Homo sapiens: one gene and its partner. The protein of the gene in region 1 purifies or fractionates together with the protein of each later gene. This does not show direct contact. Each region holds a gene or a part of one and is shown in the gene's direction. Other genes may lie near its edges.

Evidence for each region.
Region 2: the proteins of CALCR (region 1) and HSF2 purify together in Homo sapiens (affinity purification with a luminescence readout; one large-scale study listed by IntAct). This does not show direct contact.

The regions. Positions count from the first base shown.
Region 1 is NC_000007.14:93,567,958-93,571,785, reverse strand, and holds part of CALCR (calcitonin receptor isoform 2 precursor), read left to right. Parts: intron 1-3,828. UniProt on the Homo sapiens protein: G protein-coupled receptor activated by ligand peptides amylin (IAPP), calcitonin (CT/CALCA) and calcitonin gene-related peptide type 1 (CGRP1/CALCA).
Region 2 is NC_000006.12:122,419,830-122,423,657, forward strand, and holds part of HSF2 (heat shock factor protein 2), read left to right. Parts: intron 1-305; coding exon 306-393; coding exon of another isoform or gene 394-405; exon of another isoform or gene 406-581; intron 582-2,320; coding exon 2,321-2,469; intron 2,470-2,888; coding exon 2,889-3,128; intron 3,129-3,751; coding exon 3,752-3,828. UniProt on the Homo sapiens protein: DNA-binding protein that specifically binds heat shock promoter elements (HSE) and activates transcription. In higher eukaryotes, HSF is unable to bind to the HSE unless the cells are heat shocked.

The DNA.
Region 1 (3,828 bases):
TTTATGTATGAGGAAATTGAGGACCCATTAGATTAATGAACTCGCTCAAAGCCACGAACCAAGTAAATTAAAAATATATTTGAACCCAGGTCTTTTTAAGTTCAATGATGGATTACATTATATATTTATTTACATATTTGTATTTTTTACAACTTAACAGCAGCATTTATTTAGAGATAATATAAGTTAAGAGTACAAATTCTGGCACAGCTCTGCTTGAGTTTGACTTCTGATTCCATAACTTTCTATCTGTGTGATTTGGGCACATAATGTAACTTCTCGGTGCCTTAATTTTCTTTGTAGAATAAGAATTAAATGAGTTAATATTTGTAAAGCATTTGGGTAGGTGTCTGGTACATGGTAAGTTCTATGTGTTATATTTTTTTAAATGTCATTCATTCAAAAAAATTTTTATTGTTATATGCCAAGCATTGCACTAAGCCTGAAGATACATAGACAAATAAGTCATATCCCTATCCTCAAGGATGTCGTGTCTAGTAGAGAATGACAAGAACATAAGTAATCATCCCAATCAGGTATAGATCTTTTACTTAATTAAAAGCATCATTTCTTGACAACTGTGTGCTTTTCCATGTGAATGTGATCTTCCAGAGCTTCATATAATGAGTGTTATAAAACCAAGTGATAAGATTTTGTGTTTTCATAATGATACTAACTTGTTTTCAATTCTAGTATCAAAACACAGAAAATCATATTAACATATGTTTCTGGCTTCCCTTATACATTTAGAAAACCAGCAATATAGAGAGGTTTGAGATCTTTAAAATTTTATATTAAAAGTGAATCATGAAGATAGAACATTGGAGAATAATCAGTAGAAAAAATGTTATCAGTATCTGTTCCTCAATACTTCTAACAGTAATTTTCTTGAATTGGCTTTTCAAAAACAGTTTTGTCTGATTAGAATGTAGTTTTGGTTTTGTTTTTAAGAAAAAAAATGTTTCAGGGAAGAAAGAGTGGATCACAGGATACAGAAAAATGTCCCTAATACAAGTTGGCAAGGCAACATATACCTCATTGAAGCTGGCAGCACTTCCTAGTCTATGCCTGCAGCTCTGCACAGCTGCCTGGTACCTCCAGGGTACCAGTGGATACCTGAGGTATAAGATTCTGTCTTTGTTAAAAATTAAAGTCCCTGTTTATTTTTTAAAAATAGCATATAAATTGGTATTCTTTGTACCAGAATAACACAGATAATCTAAACTCAAGGAGTTATTTCTCAAAGAAGTAAAGTACCTGGTTCAGTGAAATATTTAACTATTCCATTTCACTAAAATTTATGTTTAACTATTTCAGTAAAATTTATGTCTTTCCTCTCTCTTATCAAGTCTCAGACTACCTCCAGTTTTTCCCATGGATGCTACATTTTTCTTCCTCTAAGTATCGCTGCCACACCTCTAGTTTAAGTTTTTATTATCATTAATAAAATATTTATTCTCCTAATATTCAGTCACATTAAGTTTCTATGTGCTAACTTCAGTGTTATAGAACATGGTTAGACTTGTTTTCTAATCTTTAATTTCTCCCCCTCTGTTCATAATTATTCAGTAATGGTCCAAGGACTGCAAGACTTAGAACCCCTCTTCAGCCTGGTATTTAAGATGTTTCATGGTATAATCCTAGTTTAGCTTTCCTATCCAAGTCAGGTAGAAAACCTCAACAGCTCCTTAATTTTAGTTCTGAAGCTGTAGTTACACCAGAAAAATTGACTCCTGATTTGGAGTCCATTCTTCACTTTTAACCCTGTGCCCTTGCATGTCAACCTCAGTCTATATTCTTCTGCCTCAAAATTGAAGTGTGTGTGTGTGTGTGTGTGTGTGTGTGTGTGTCCCTTTACATCAATGGTTCCATTGTAGAGCTGCTTTTCTTTGGTTTTCATGTCTCGCTGCAACCCTAGTCTCACTCCCTGCCCTTTATTTGTCCGGTGGTTCAGAATTCAACATTTCAAATCTTACCTTCCTTCATCCTTAAAATGTATTAATCATTCTCCCATAACACATCTAACAAATTTCCATCCTATAGCTTTGCTCATATTTTAAAACTGAATAAATATGTACTAAGTGCCTATTATGTCCTAGTCAGGGGATATTGTGACAGATTACAGATCCTGATTTCATGGGGAATGGAAAAGACAGACAAACCAACAAACATTATACAGCCCTGTGGTATGTATTCCAATAGAGAAATGCCATGAGGGTGCCTAGCCGGACAACCAGCCCGGACATCAGGGAAATTTTCTAGGGAGGTTACCCTAAAGGGCATATGATTCAGCATTGAAATGACAGAACAGAATGAGCTAGATAAAGAGGGGAAGAAATGAAGTGTTACAGGCAGGACACCAGATTGTGGCTTGAAACAACATGGTGACTTGGGGAAACCACAGGTATTTTTGTTGCCCCAGCAGGGTTAAAGGACACAGATTATACACAAAGAAGCTTGCATGCCTACCATACTAAAGGGTTTGCATTTTATCAGGAAGATAGTGGGGGGTCCTTGAAGGAGTTAATATAGGTTACTGAAATAATCAGATTTGCCATTTTGGTAGATCTCTCTGGTGGAAAATAAGAGGCATATTAGATTGAAAAAAAGGATGGATACAGATTAACTGGACACACGCAGCCTTACTGCAGTGACAGAGGGAAGAATCAATTAGGGCCTCCTTGTTGGAGACAGAAAAGAAAAAAAAACGAAATTATTTTAAAGGTAGATTTTGTAGGATTTGGTGAACGATAGAAATTAGAGGTGAGATGAAAGAGAAAAATTGTATGATGAATTCCAGGCCTCTTTCATGGATAATAAGAGAGATGTGATGTCATTCACCAAGTCGGGACAAGGAGTATTTTGGACAGGCAAGATAAATAGTTGAATTTGGAGGAAAAAAAAATAATGTCTTTGGCTCATCCATGTGATGATGTTAAGTAGAAGTGCATATAGAAATTAGTGCCTCAAGAGAGAATTTGGTACTAGAAATATAAATTTAAGAGACATAGTGAATCTATTTCAGCTGACAGCATAGGAATAAAGCATATTATCTCTGGAGAAGTAAAAACAGGGAATAAAGAAAGAAAACATAGAGGAAAAAATTAAAGGTAGAAAATTAAAAGAAAAGTAAAACATCTTAGAATCCTGGAAAGCACCAATATTTAAAGGGAAATGGAAAACAATCCTGCAAAAAAAAGACAGAGATGAAAGACTACAGGAGAGAGACAGAGAGAGAGAGAGAGAGAGAGAGAGAGAGAGAGAGAGAGAGAGAGAAAGTAATTTTATGGAAACCAGGGAGGAGAAAGCGAGCACTCATGCGGGATGTTACCAGTAGATCAAGTGGGATAAGGATTGAGAGCTCGCAATTGCATTTAATTGAGAGCAATTTTAGTCGTGAGTTGGGTGTGGGTTGAGAAATAAATGTGAAATGAGGAAATGGAGACACTGATTGTACACAATAATTTCAATCAGTTTGAGACGCCTGCCTTACTTTATTTTCCCTTTTTGAAAGGTGCAGTCTCCTAAAGCTTAACTTACATGCTGCTTCCTTCTTTTTAGCCTTTCCTGGACAGCGTTTAATCCCCCCAACAAAGATGTCATATCACATCATGATTGATATCCCTTGTTTTAGAGTTTCCAGAGGTCCCATGCATGTGAGCTGTGTGCGTTTGCATGTGTATGAATATATAGGTATATATTAAATACCCATGTAGTATGTAAAGTATTTTTCTCTGTTGCCATGCATTCATTGAAATAATTTTCTTAATCTCTTTATTATGATAGTGTATGGGGAGAAAAATGAGTTTATAAGCCCCTGCCCTCAAT
Region 2 (3,828 bases), on another chromosome or scaffold:
TTTTTTCTATATAAATACAGTTCATAGAGTTGTGTGGTTCGGTAAGCAATGAAGTATAACTGGAGAGAATAGCTTATTATAACAAAAAGAGTGTAGAAAAGTGGAGAACTGAAAGTCCTAGATATTCTCATCCAGCAGTTTCTGTTCCTAAGATGTAATCATTTTTAAGTTTATTTATTGTTACTGAAATTTTTTATTCATTATTAAGTGAGTGTGCATGTGTGTGTGTTTGGGTAAGTTAATAGAGGGAGTTTAAATTCATTGTATGTTTGCTTCACTGAACTGCATATTCTTCTGGTTTTCAGGCCTCTACTTCTAAACACTAATGGAGCCCAAAAGAAGAACCTGTTTCAGCACATAGTCAAAGAACCAACTGATAATCATCATCATAAAGTAATTTTTTAGTTAGGGTCTATTTTATATTTATTGTCTCAGACTAAATTTTATTATGGCAGTGTTTCATGCATTCAAAGAAGTGTGGTGAATAACAATTCAAGTGTTCATCCCACAGCTTTGTTAAATTGTGACATTTTTTATTATTTGCTTTAGATTATTGTAAGAAATAAATCATCACAAATCTAGTTGTTCCAGTTGCCTGTTTCTAAGTTTTTCTCTCTCCCCGTCTCTTGTCTCCCCTCTTTACTCTTCCTCGCTTACCCTAGAGGTAATCACTATCTTGAATTAGTATCTATCATTCTCATGGCCATTTTGTATATGTGAATCCAGGAGCAGTACTTGGTATTATTTTGCATATATCTAAACTTCATATAAATAATATCATTTTGTGCATATCATTTTATAGTGTGGCTTTTTTTTAACTTGATGTTGCTTTTGAGATTTATTAAACATAGCGATTTAGTTTATTCATTTCTTTTTTTTTTTTTTTTTTTTTTTTTTTTTGAGATGGGATTTCACTCTGTCACCCAGCCTGGAGTGCAGTGGTATGATCTTGGCTCACTGCAGCCTCCACCTCCTGGGCCCAGGCAATTCTCCTGCCTCAGTCTCCTGAGTAGCTGGGACTATAGGTGTGTGCCACCACACTTGGATAATTTTTGTATATTTTGTAGTGATGGATTTTCATCATGTCACCTTTGCTGGTCTCGAACTCCCAGACTCAAGCCATCTGCCTGCCTCAGCCTCCCAAAGTTTTGGGATTACAGGCATGAGCCACTGCACCTGGCTTACTCATTTCAATATTATATAATAATTGAATATTTTGAAAATGTAATTATTATAATTTAATGTGATTATATATTCTTACATTGGTTATTCTATTTTCAACTTTTTTTTATTAATGTTCACCAACTAGAATGCTTTTTACTCCAGCAATTTAAATTTTTACCTTCATTTTGTCACAGGCTTTCTGGATAATTTGTCAGATTTCTATCCAGTGGCAAATTAGTCCAGTCCAAAGTCCAGATCTTTTTTATTATCTTTTTGTTACTACTTTCAAACTTCAGAATTCAAAATAGTTCTTTAGATTTATTATTAAAGTAATAAGATTTTTGTTCTTGGACAATCAAACTTAACCTCACATCTGATTTCTTTTCCCTCTACTGTTAGAAAATAATCAAGCATACCTATTTTGTTTTTAGGATTGAAGGCTCATGTAAGTGGATGAAGATTTTTATATTTTTAACTGGGTTTATATATTTTAAAGTACTTCACATCCTTTGCCTCTTTATTATCTAGTATTGGAATTTATAGTTTTTTGCATTTTAATAATGACTTTAGTTTGCTTTACAGGATTGAACTTAGTTTGATTAATACAGCTGTAGCCTGAATATATCTGTAGCTTAAGTTTAAAAAAAAATCATTGCTAAAAAGCCAAGCTAACATGTAACTGAGAGAGGTGAAGTGCGTTTTTTTCTCTTAGTGAAGGTATTTAATGAATAAGAATAAAACACATTTCAAAACAGAGCATCTTGAGCTGAAACAATATCCCTATCAGCATGGTGGCTGTCTGGTCGTGCTTGAAGTTTCTAGTGAAGTCCTAAGACTTTTTTACTCTTTAGGCATAAAAAATACTTTAAAATTTGAAGATCTTTCCATAGAAACATTTTTAGGGGTGTCATCTTCAGGGTCCCTTACAGTAAAAGAAGTAGTAAAGTGTAGAATGCAGTTAATATACCTCATACCTCTGTGAATTGGTGCTGCTAGTACCAATTATTATGTAAGTTCCGTAAGAGCAGAGAACACACCTGTTTTGCATACCCCGAGATTCAGTAAATAGTAGTTGCCTAGTTATTTTGTAGATGATATCTTGTTTGGTAGTCAATGATTTTGATTTTTAGATATATTTTTCTCTCTGAATTTTTAGGTTCCACACAGTAGGACTGAAGGTTTAAAGCCAAGGGAGAGGATTTCAGATGACATCATTATTTATGATGTTACTGATGATAATGCAGATGAAGAAAATATCCCAGTTATTCCAGAAACTAATGAGGATGTTATATCTGATCCCTCCAAGTAAGGAGTTTGTGAGATAAAATGTATGAAAATATTGATTACTTTTCTTATTACAGAGTAAAATTCAAAACTACTTTGTTCTTTGAAAAATAATAATCTTTCTCACATTTGGATTATTAAACTTGATAATTAAGCTAAATTATTCAACCAGATAAAACCTCACCTCCTCTTCCTCTCAAAGGAGGTATACTGAAAACTAATTGATTTTTAATTTTTATTTTGGAGTTAAGCACTTCTCATTCAATCTTTATGGTCTTCTATACTATGAAGTACCAATATTGTGATTAAGCTGCTCGCTCAAGAAATTTAAGCCTTTCAGTATGTGGTATGGGGAGAGAGTTTCCATTTAGAATGAATGGATAGTATGAACTTATTAAATTTGAAAATGTAATAGGTTCCTTCTTTTATTGCTGATTTAGCTGTAGCCAGTACCCTGATATTGTCATCGTTGAAGATGACAATGAAGATGAGTATGCACCTGTCATTCAGAGTGGAGAGCAGAATGAACCAGCCAGAGAATCCCTAAGTTCAGGCAGTGATGGCAGCAGCCCTCTCATGTCTAGTGCTGTCCAGCTAAATGGCTCATCCAGTCTGACCTCAGAAGATCCAGTGACCATGATGGATTCCATTTTGAATGATAACATCAATCTTTTGGGAAAGTGAGTGCTTATCTAGATGTTGTCTAAAATTATTTGCTTTCTTTGTTCACTTCACATGTTCTGTTTCTCTTTGAGTAATCTTCCTTTCAGATGATGAACCCACATAGTCCACCTTTCTCTGTTTTGGTCAGTGTTGAGTTCTGTAATGAATGGGATTTAATCATCCCAAGAATAGTCTTGGTATTTTCCTGGTAGTTTCTCAGATTCCTTTGATGATATACTTCCTTTGAGTGTACATACAGTGTTTGTGATTATATATATTTGTGTATCCAAACTACAGAATAATGTAATTTCTAGTAAGGTACTTATAACAAAGAAAACTTAATAGTAATAATCAGTAATGAGATTAAACATTTTATATAGTATAGAGGAAAAAGGTAAATCAGACTGTTCTGCAGGGTGTGTTTTTCTGTAAATACTAAAGTTTTCTGTAAAGGCTATGAATTTTCAGTTAACCAGATTTTCAAGAATTCCTACTCTAGAATAAGATCTCTTAAGATTAAGAACCGGTAAGGATGCAGCAGCTGCTAGAAATATCTTGCCTAGCCAAGTTGTAATGGTGATTTTTAAACATAAAAACAAGGATATCTAATATTTGATTAAAAAAATTTTTTTTTCCTTAGGGTTGAGCTGTTGGATTATCTTGACAGTATTGACTGCAGTTTAGAGGACTTCCAGGCCATGCTATCAGGAAGACAAT